2 linked regions of the Homo sapiens genome follow. The protein of the gene in region 2 interacts with the protein of the main gene of each other region in a pairwise test. Each region holds a gene or a part of one and is shown on either strand. Other genes may lie near its edges.

Region 1 (7,897 bases), on a different chromosome or scaffold from region 2:
CATCAGGAGTTCCATTTTGTGAACAAGGTGAGATTCACATAATCATGGGCCTGGTGACCACCACTTAAATGCTTATAGCTAAATTAAATCTAATAACTATCAGTGGTATTAACATAAAAGTGGGTATTTCTTGGGACCAAATGACTGTTTAAATATCCAGAGTTTGGTAATGGAGCAAGGCAGTAATACTCACAGGCTTTCATGGGACTATGCTTTCTTTATTTTCATTTCTAGTAATTTAAAATAATAGCTTTCTTGCCCAATTTAAGGCAAAATTCTAAAATGCACTGTCGGCATTTCTCTATTTTCTTCCAAATCCTCTATAGTTGATTACAGGTCTTGGAAACTCTGTATTTATCTGATTTCTTTAATCAGCAGACATACAATTTATTACTTAGATTATAGCTCTCACACATTTTCCATACTGAGAAATGTGTTGCTACAGATTTCTCTATGAAGAATTCAAATGGCGCTGCTAAAAACGCTTACATGAACCAAACAGCTCACTTTTGCTTATCCATAGGAATCCTGCTCCAAAAACATATATTTGAGGTGTTAAAATTGTTAAAAATTATTTTTGAGACACTGGTAAACTAGATTTCATGATAAAGGGAATATTTCATATTGTATAACTCTCAAATTGGACGGGAATACATTTTTTTCAAACAAAATATGTAAACTGAGGCAGTTGCCAGAAGACTTCTTGGTAGCCTTCTAAAACTGTATTTTTCTTCCCTAAAGACTTTTAAAGCTTTGGAGGCTGTTTTAAGTAGTACTGGAATTGTTGGATGTAACGATGTTTTGATGAAAATATAGAATAAAATAATAATAAAAAATAAATAGTACTGGCATTGCATGGAATTTCAGCTGATGTCTTATAACTTGTGCACATAACGAAACATACAGCCAAAGAAAGCTGTCTAATTAACAAACCAATTGTTAAAAGATGCAAAGGGTCTTAAAAACCACTTAAACATTGTTCTTAAAGACACACCCAAAATGACTGCTTTGTGTTCTGTGTTATTAACCATCCCTAAAACTTTCTCAAGGCTAAGGCTGACTGGGAAGATAAAATGCTTATCAAACACAATGGGAAAATTCTGAGTCATGATAAGATTTCAACTCAAGGTCAAAGGCAGAGAATCACCTTTCCTAACCCCATCTGCTAGGTACAATTCACCTATGGTCTTCTTTGTCCTGTCGATGTGCCTAACTATCAGGCAGATGTTTATAAAGAATTTCTCCTCATATGCAAGCGTTTTTTGTTTTTTTTCATCAGTATAAGGACAGAGAATAAACCTTAGCTAAGAAGCAACTGTATTAAAAACAAAACGATTTGTAGCTATGATTCAAATCAGCTCTCTTTCTGTGGTATTAAGAGAATTAAAGGGTAGAAGCAGAAAACCTCTCATAAATTAGCAAGAGTCCTGGAAAAAAGTCGCAAGTCAAGAGACCACAAAGATCTCAGAGGTACTGACAGTGGAAATCTCAAATGGATCATAATAGTTACCACAAATAATTTATAAAAAGCAATGGCCAATAGATTCCAATATTACCATTCTATTGTAATCTATAGGGATGCCATATTAATCATATTTAACCTTTCCAGGCATTATGCTTTCTTAGGAGTCCATATTCAATAAATAAATGCTGAAAAGTTATTTTCTCATCTAACCTAATAATCCATATTGTTAAAAAAATGTTTTATCAAACATTTCCTAGATGTCATAACTTGCTTAAAATTGTATCCTCATATAATGGTGAGGATACCATTACCAAATACCCTGGTGTTTCTACTGTATTCATCATGTACAATCCTATAATTATAGTCATGTTGTCTTAACTTAGTGTTATAAATCACTACAATTTCTATAACATTTTCATATATGAACAAAATTAATAGCTTTCTCATTATTGAATAGAATCAGATGTGATAAGTGACCTCAAATGTTTTATTTAGAGGCTTAAAGACAAAGAACTCTAAACGAGTATCCAGCATCTTTTGAAAGGATACCTAAAGGGGCAAGAAAAAAAATTATCTTTCCCCCATGAGCAAGAGAAGGGGAGCTGGGTGGTAAGTAAGGATGCAAGGTTTTCAGGACTGTTAACAGTTGAGAGTGTAGGTTCTTTCTACCTCTCCCTGATCCTCCCAGCCCTCCCCCATAACAATGAGGATGCTGGTGAAATACTAGCGGACAGGATCTGACCATACCTTCATGGGTAGGCTCTGGGTCAGGTGTAAGTGAGATGTCATCCAGCTCTCGCAGGCAGAGCCATTCTCCATCCATGGACACTCGGAATTTGCAAAGGTAGATGGTCTCCATGGCAGCCTGTGTGATCTTGTCAGTGGTGGGGGTTGGCATATCGGTCGGAGGCGTCAGAGCAGACATGATGACTCAGCTGGGACCACAACACACACACAGACACACACACACTCACACACACACACCAAAAAAATAAATACAACCTCCTCACCAAAAAAACCCAATACAAAGCTCTGAAACAAAGCTTTCAGGAAAAGGGTGGGGGAGGTTTAAAAAAAAAAAAAAGGAAAAATACCTTATAGGTTAAGAACAAACTGCTCAAGATAAACAATTCTACACTATCTTATAGACAGTTCCTACCACATAGCAAAATAAGATGATGCTTGTCTTCTCCCAGCTTCCTCTCCTTTTATCTTCCCTTCCCTGCCCCCCACCTTTTTTTTCAGCTGAGCTATAGGCTTTAAATCCCGCACAGCTGATGCTGCCTTAGCTGGCTTTAAAAATCTGGCCTCGATATGAGTAAGTGAAAAATCCTCCTCCTTTGTGCAGAAAAAAAATATAAAAGAAAAACCTGAACAAAAAATAAACCTATATTTTCAATGTAGCTTAAAAAAAAAATCCTGAGCTGCAGAAATCACTTCCAGGATCTGCTCAGATGAGCTGGGATGCTGAGTTCTCATAGGATTGGCCGTGCGCAGTAAGCAGGGTGTTGACCAAAATGGCTGACTAATGAACTGAACTGAAAATTCAGGCTCATGTGACCAGCTGCTCTGAACGTAGGGCAAGCAATTCCCAGGATGCTTTATAGATGCTGCTGATGCTGGGAGAGCAATTAGGCTTCTCTCTCTCATCCTGTACAACCCACTTCCAGACTGTGCTAGTCAAACTGTGATCAGACATAACACAATGCACATATCCTCATCAATTCTTCTTACTTTGGGATCAAGGACTGAATAAAAGGATGACAATTAATACCGGATAATAATCTATAGTAAAGATGGTAAAAGAGGCAGTTAGATTAATTTAACAAGCATATAATTCACCTCTTTCATTCTTATCTACATAGCTATTAAAATTCTTTACTATGCTAAATGTTATGTTTTAAGAAAAGCTAAAGCATAAAAAATTGAGGTTCTCAGAGGGAAAAAAAACAAAAAGATAAAAAGAAAAGCTAAAGTAGATTTTCAATTTAAATATCTTATTCTTGGGCATTTATAATTTCCTTCTCCAAGGTACAAAAACCTGACCTTTTAGGTTAGGCAGAAATGCAAAAAAAAAACTTCAAGTTAAAAAAGTAAAATCTTTCCCAATTAATGGCAATTTCCCCCCTTTTTGATTTTGTTGTATTTATCAAGTTTCTGTATTAAGCATAAAATACGTTTCTTTTTTTTTCTTTTTTCTTTTTTGAGACAGAGTCTTGCTCTGTAGCCCAGGCTGGAGTGCAGTGGCGTGATCTCAGCTCCCAGGTCCAAGCAATTCTCTGCCTCAGCCTCCCGAGTAGCTGGGATTACAGGCACCCACCACCACGCCCAGCTAATTTTTGTATTTTTAGTAGAGACGGGGTTTCACCATCTTGGCCAGGCTGGTCTTGAACTTCTGACCTCATGATCCTCCCACCTCAGCCTCCCAAAGTGCTGGGATTACAGGCGTGAGCCACCATGCCCAGCCTTAAGCATGAAATATGTTTCTAAGCAGATTAAACCATGTTATATTTTTAAAATCCTCCCATTCGATAAGATACTGAAGACAATTATATTTTCTTAATACACACACACACACACACACACACACACACACACACACACACACACGGCCCTATATTATCCAATGAGGCATTTATACCTTGGTAGCAAAAGGGCAGGTACTTGCTTTATGAACTACATAAATTACAAAGAGAAGAATAAGAATTTTCTTTGAAAATGTTTTGGACAATTGAAAGAAAGTGTTTGTTTGTTTTTGTATTGAAGGGTTCCAATTTTAAGGAGGAACATACAAATTCAAGAAATATGACCTGAGACTATTCCTTTCTAGGGATTGTTATCAGAGGGACATCTTGATTTACCTAATTTCTGAAAACTAAAAAAATTCTCCTTGAATATTGTTAAAATCTCAAATGCTTCATCATAATTTGAGACTGAACTGAAAGAAAAAAATGCTAATAATCAAATTCTGTAGAGAAACTGGCATTTTCATATTGTTACGAAGACAGGGCGGATGGCTGGGCGCGGTGGCTCATGCCTATAATACCAGCACTTTGGGAGGCCAAGGCGGGCAAATCACCTGAGGTCAGGAGTTCGAGACCAGCCTGGCCAACATGGTGAAACCTCATCTCTACTAAAAATACAAAAATTAGTCAGATGTGGTGGCATGTGCCTGTAATCCCAGCACTTTGGGAGGCTGAGGCAGGTGAATGGCTTGAGCTCAGGAGTTTGAAACCAGCCTGGGCAACATGGCAAAACTCCATCTCTACAAAAACAAAAATTAGCAAGGTATGGTTGCGCGCACATGTGGTCCTAGCTACTTGGGAGACTGAGGTGGAAGAATCACGTGAGGCCAGGAGGCAGAGGCTGCAGTGAGCCGAGATCATACCACTGCACTCTACCCTGTCTCAAAATAAAAAAAAGAAGGAGGGTATACTGGTACAATGTAAGAAGGCATATATATAGGCTTATTTATAATTGGGGAAAATCAGTAAGTTACTAAGGAAAGCAAAATACTCCTGGTTTTATTTCTATCTCATTCTCTCTCATCATTACCCTACATCTAGACTCAGAGCCATTCATTCATTCATTCATTCAACAGATATTCACTAAGAGGTGCTCCACATGCCAGGTAGTGATCCAGGCACTAGGCACGCAGCAGTAAGACAGAAACACCTTTTCCAGGAAACAGAATTTTCATATCCAAATACTGAACACAAGCCTTCATTTAACACATTCTCATTTAATTCAGTTCAATTCCTTTCTAGCCAAAAATATTCCCATATTATATATTAATAAGGGGACAGTTTATAGATTCACTTTATATCATGCAATACTTCAAAACATAGTAAGTAGTCATTAAAACCTTCAAATTACATGGGACATTCCTGGAACCACAACTCCAAACAGCCCTAGCTATCTGTATGTGTGATATCAAAACTCTAGATCACTGATATGTTCTTAAAACAGAACAAGGAATACATGAATAAATCCGAATGCCATGTGATTGTCTGGGGTCCAAAACCTGAATTTGGCCTTGTCACAAACCACAACAATCTCTTCACCCCAGTAAGCATTTACTAACTTGAACAGATCTAGATTGATTGCAACATACCAACACAACAGGAACATCAAGGTTAGTGAGCAAGAAACTTGATTAACATTCCTTCGGAAGATCCATCCCACCCTGCCTCTCTCCAGGTAGAGGACACAGAGAGGCAAGCCCAAAACAACTAAAGTTTTTGGCAAGGAAAGAAAAACATGCCTGTATTGGTATCCTTGAATTTCCCAGATCTACCAGTTTGAGGTGTTGGCAGCCATTTCAGAAATAAGACCCGGGGGTGGGCAAGAAAAACTGTACTTCTACGCTGTTCTTTAGGTAAACACCATTGAGTCTTCAGCACGAACAGTTATCCATTGTTCACAGGCAAAGAAGTTACTATGAAAACAGTGCTATTTGTAGAAACTTATAAAAACAATTCTACGGCCGGGCACGGTGGCTCATGCCTGTCATCCCAGTACTGTGGGAGGCTGAGGCAGGCGGGTCACCTGAAGTCGGGAGTTCAAGACCAGCCTGACCAACATGGAGAAACGCCATCTTTACTAAAAATACAAAATTAGCTGGGCGTGGTGGCACATGCCTGTAATCTGCTACTCTGGAGGCTGAGGCAGGAGAATCGCTTGAACCTGGGAGGCGGGGGTTGCAGTGAGGTGAGATTGCACCACTGCACTCCAGCCTGTGAAACTCCGTCTCAAAGAAAAAAAAAAAAGATTTTAGATATTGCTTAGTACCGTTTTTACATTTTGGTCTTTACTAAGTAAACATCTTAGCTTTGAATATGAAGTTAAAGTTAAGCCATCAGTAAGATATTCAAACCTTGATTTTTTTTCTCACATACAGAGTAATTACTGTATGAGCTGTATTGAACTATTTTCTCATTTGATCCCATTTGTGAGTAATGGCACCTATTTGTAAGATGGTTGTGAGGCGGGTGGGAGTTCAGTCTGTGGCCCTAAAAGAATAGGCCTGTGTGAAGTTCAAATCCAAAATGAAGATCCAAAAAATACTACGTTCTAGCTGCTTAAACAGTCTGTATTTTCCACATTATGATGGATTCAAAGCAAATAAGAGTCACACTTCAAAGTCAGAAGTTACATTCCTCTTAAAGGATATTTGTACTCGGCTGCTACTATAAGACAAAGGTTAACTTGACAGGCTCAATGTCTCTGTTATATATTGTGGAAAAATTACCTAAAATAGCTATCATTTATTAAATTTCTATTTTCTGTTAGGTGCTTTACAAATGCCATGTAAAGGGCTGGGTGCGGTGGCTCACGCCTGTAATCCCAGCACTTTGGGAGGCCGAGGCAGGTAGATCACGAGGTCAGGAGATTGAGACCATCCTGGCTAACACGGTGAAACCCCGTCTCTACTAAAAATACAAAAAAATTAGCTGGGCATGGTGGTGGGTGCCTGTAATCCCAGCTACTCAGGAGGCTGAGGCAGGAGAATGGCGTGAACCCGGGAGGCGGAGGTTGCAGTAAGCCAAGATCGCGCCACTGCACTCCAGCCTGGGCAACAGTGTAAGACTCTGTCTCAAAAAAAAAAAAAAAAAAAAAAAAAAATACCATGTCAAGTCTTCACAAAAGCACTGCAAAACAGAGATTGATACCTTCTCTTTATACACAATGAAACCAAAGTTCAGCCACGTAACTGGCCCAGAATCACACAATTAGCGAGTAGCAGATCTGTTACTCCAAGCTACTTCTGTCTAGATACCTCCAAAGTCCATGTTCCTTCTACACTCTGCAACTTCAGCACTCTATCCTAACTCTTCCTCATCCCCGGATGTTAAATTTTATTCAGAGAAAATAAAAAGACATTTAAAACACACACACACAAACACACACACACACACGCAAAGTCTCTTCATGAAATTTCCTAAAGATGAGTTTCAACAAATTTAAGATTTGAAGAAATTTTTTTTATCAGCCTCCATACTTTACACCTTAATGCTGCACAACCCATACCTTCCTCTAGGCCCCCCAACTTACATATTAAGTTCAGGCTTTTAGTAAGTGGGCACATTCTGACAAACTGAGAACCCAGTATGGACTTTTCTGTCATGGGCTCACAAAGGGTAGATAAAATGCTTCCACTATGTACTTGGTTCACCCTACTACCACTCTGTCTCTGAGTTCCCTCCACATTTACATACTAGTTGGACACATTAAGAACACCTGATAAATTCCAAAATAGAAAAAGATAAATGAAGGGGGGAATCACTTTCTAAAATGATGCATTGTACGCTTTTTAAAAATAGCAAACTTAATGTATAATTTTAAGTCCTTAAAGAATATAACCAATATCCCTGAAACCCTTGCTCAACTGGAGAAATGGACCAACATATGTACTTATGTGCTCCTTCTTGC
Region 2 (3,443 bases):
TGTATTATTAGTAGAGACAGGTTTTCGCCATGTTGGCCAGGCTGGTCTCTAACTCCTGACCTCAAGTGACCTGCCTGCCTCAGCTTCCCAAAGTCTTGGTATTACAGGCGTGAGCCACTGCGTCCGGCCATACTTTTTACTTTTAAACTGGAAAATAGGGAGAGAGTAGTCTATCTGGACATTCAAGGCACATATCTAGGGAACCTAGGAAATACTGATGAGTCCACATCTCCTTTCAAGACTTCTCTATCACTCCACCTGCACTTGCTCTCTAGAAAAACATATCTGGCCTGTGTCCCAACCCCACCGGGTGTTTCTGCCCACTGATTACACTGAGTGAGAGAATGAATTAGTCCTGAAGAAGTGACTCAAACGATGAGAATTTCAGAGAGCCTAGAAAGCTGGTAGGGAGTGTGCCACTGGCATGGAGAATATCACTCTAGTAGGGCAAACTGCCTGTTCTGCTCATCACAATCAGGAATGTCTTGGAGGAAAGCAAGACAAAAAGCCATGTGATAATCTATACAAATTTTATTTTGATATCAATTTGTATGGAAACAAGCAGGTGTCAGCATTATGCAGGCACAGAAAAAAGGGAAAGAAAAAACTCCAGTGATAATTTATCTTGTATTTATATCGTTTGGTTTCAACAAGGACAGGAAGTTTTACTGTTAGCTTCCTGTGGGAACTCCAGTTTCTGCACCTTCCCCTGCTGCCTCTCAGCATCACGATACAGCAGGGATTTCTGGGCCTTCAATCGGCAAGCCAAGCACATGAAAATCGACTCCACGTTCTGGCTCTCTTTGGGGTCCTTGGCCGATGTCTCAAACAAGAGCATGTTGTGGGCATCAGCAAATTTCAGGGCTAAGTTGGAGGGCACCTGGATCTGTTCCCTCAAGTCACACTTGTTGCCCACAAGCACTTTGGGGACTAGTGGGGGCACAGCATGCCCATTGCATTCTTGGATCCACATTTTGAGGTTGGTGAAAGATGTCATCTTGGTGACGTCATAGACGAAGACCACGGCATGTACGTTGCGGTAGTAATGCTCGACCATGCTTTTGCGGAAACGTTCCTGACCTGCTGTGTCCCACACCTGAACCTGGAAGATACAAAAACCCAAAGGTGGAGTCAGAAAAGGGAACATGAACAGAGAGGAGAAAACATGGTTCTGTAGCACTATAAAAATGAAGTGACAGGACGGGTGCGGTGGCTCACGCCTATAATCCCAGCACTTTGGGAAGCTGAGGCGGGCAGATCACCTGAGGTCAGGAATTTGAGACCAGCCTGACCAACATGGAGAAACCTCAACTCTACTAAAAATACAAAATTAGCCGGGCATGGTGGTGCATGCCTGTAATCCCAGCTACGGGGGAGGCTGAGGCAAGAGAATTGCTTGAACCAGGGAGTCGGAGGTTGCAGTGAGCCGAGATCACGCCATTGCACTCCAGCCTGGGCAAAAAGAGCAAAACTCCATTTCAAAAAAAATAAAAAAAGTGACAAGCCGTGACACAGGAAGTGGTTCTTTGACAGATGAGCAGAATGGACTTATCAAAGCATAAAGAGAAGTTTCAGGATTTGTCAAGTTTTTCTTAAGATTGTTAACTGAAAATCTTGAGTTGAAAAAAATCTTAAGATTTTTAGTTGAAAAACTGGATGTAAATTGGTCAACTTTTCTGGAGAGCAATTTGGCAATATTATCAAGAACCTCAAAAATGTTCATAACTCTTAGGACCTGAAATCTCACTTCCAGAAATCTATACAAAAGAAATAGGGATGTGGTCAAAATTCTGTACTAATATCTTACAGTGTTATTTAGAATTTTTTTTTTTGAGACCGTGTCTCGCTCTGTCACCCAGGCTGGGGTGCAGTGGCGCCATCTCGGCTCACTGCAAGCTCCGCCTCCCAGGTTCACGCCATTCTCCTGCCTCAGCCTCCCAAGTAGCTGGGACCACAGGTGCCCGCCACCACGCCTGGATAATTTTTTGTATTTTTAGTAGAGATGGGGTTTCACTGTGTTAGCCAGGATGGTCTCGATCTCCTCACCTCGTGATCCGCCTGCCTCAGCCTCCCAAAGTGCTGGGATTACTGGCTTGAGCCACTGAGAATTTTTTTAAAACAGGAAAAACCTAAATGCTCATCAGAAAAGGAATAGCTAAAGTTCATGTCTATACAGTGGGGTCAGGTACAGTGGCTCATGCCTGTAATCCCAGCACTTTGGGAGGCTGAGGCAGGTGGATCATCTGAGGTCAGGAGTTCGAGACCAGCCTGGCCAACATGGTGAAATCCCATCTCTACTAGAAATACAAAAAAAATTAGCCAGGCCTGGTGGTGTGTACCTATAGTCCCAGCTACTCGGGAGGCTGAGACACAAGAATTGCTTGAACCCGGGAGGCGGTGGTTGCAGTAAGCCGAGATCGGGCCACTGCACTTCAGCCTGGGCAACACAGTGAGACTCCGTCTCAAAAAGAATAAACAAAAATGAAAATATATCCGTACAGTGGGATATTATGCAGCCATTAAAAATAATGTTTTCAAAGACTAAATTGTAAGAGAAACGCTCACAAAATACAAGTAAGTGAAAATGCAGAATACAGAATTTTTCTTTTTTCTTTTCTTTTATTTTTTTTTTGAGACAGAATTTCGTTCCTGTTGCCCAGGCTAGAGTGAAATGGCACGATCTCGGCTCACTGCAACCTCTGCCACCTGGGTTCAAGCAATTCTCCCACCTCAGACTCCTGAGTAGCTGGCATTACAGGCATGTGCCACCACGCCCGGCTAATTTTATATTTTTAGTAGAGACGGAGTTTCTCCATGTTGGTCAGGCTGGTCTTGAACTCCCGATCTCAGGTGATCCGCCTGCCTCGGCTTCCCAAAGAGCTGGGATTACAGGCATGAGCCACCACGCCCAGCCTCAAAAGTTTTCATATGCTATGGTCCCAGTTTTTTTTAAGAAACGTTAAACATAAACATATGCAAAGCACAGACTGGAAGTGTACACATCAGAACATTAATGGTTATTTATCAGCAATGAGACTATAGTGATATTTATTTTCTTCTTTTTAAATATTTTTCCATATTTTCTTCTACAAGTATGCATATATATGTTATATATATTACATATATGTTATATATAGTGTATATGTTATATATATTACATATATATGTTATATATATTGTGTGTATATATGTTATATATATGTGTATATATATATATATATATATATATTTTTTTTTTTTTTTTTTTGTAGAGACAGAATCTTGTTATGTTGCCTAGGCTAGTCTCGAACTCTTGGCCTCAAGCAATCCTCCTGCCTCGGCCTCAAAATGTGCTGGGATTACAGGCATGAGCCACTAGCCTGAATAACTTTTTAAAGAAAACAAAGTTAGTATTAAAATCTCACCTTCAAGCCCTATTTATTTATTTATTTATTATTTTGAGA

Evidence for each region. The genes of interacting proteins can lie anywhere in the genome.
Region 1: the proteins of RAB33A (region 2) and RUFY3 interact in binary tests that used the Homo sapiens proteins (3 or more experiments, as listed by UniProt).

The regions. Positions count from the first base shown.
Region 1 is NC_000004.12:70,717,067-70,724,963, reverse strand, and holds the start of RUFY3 (protein RUFY3), read right to left. Parts: upstream 3,001-7,897; 5' UTR 2,391-3,000; coding exon 2,213-2,390; intron 1-2,212. UniProt on the Homo sapiens protein: ARL8 effector that promotes the coupling of endolysosomes to dynein-dynactin for retrograde transport along microtubules. Acts by binding both GTP-bound ARL8 and dynein-dynactin.
Region 2 is NC_000023.11:130,181,944-130,185,386, reverse strand, and holds the end of RAB33A (ras-related protein Rab-33A), read right to left. Parts: intron 1,103-3,443; coding exon 647-1,102; 3' UTR 517-646; downstream 1-516.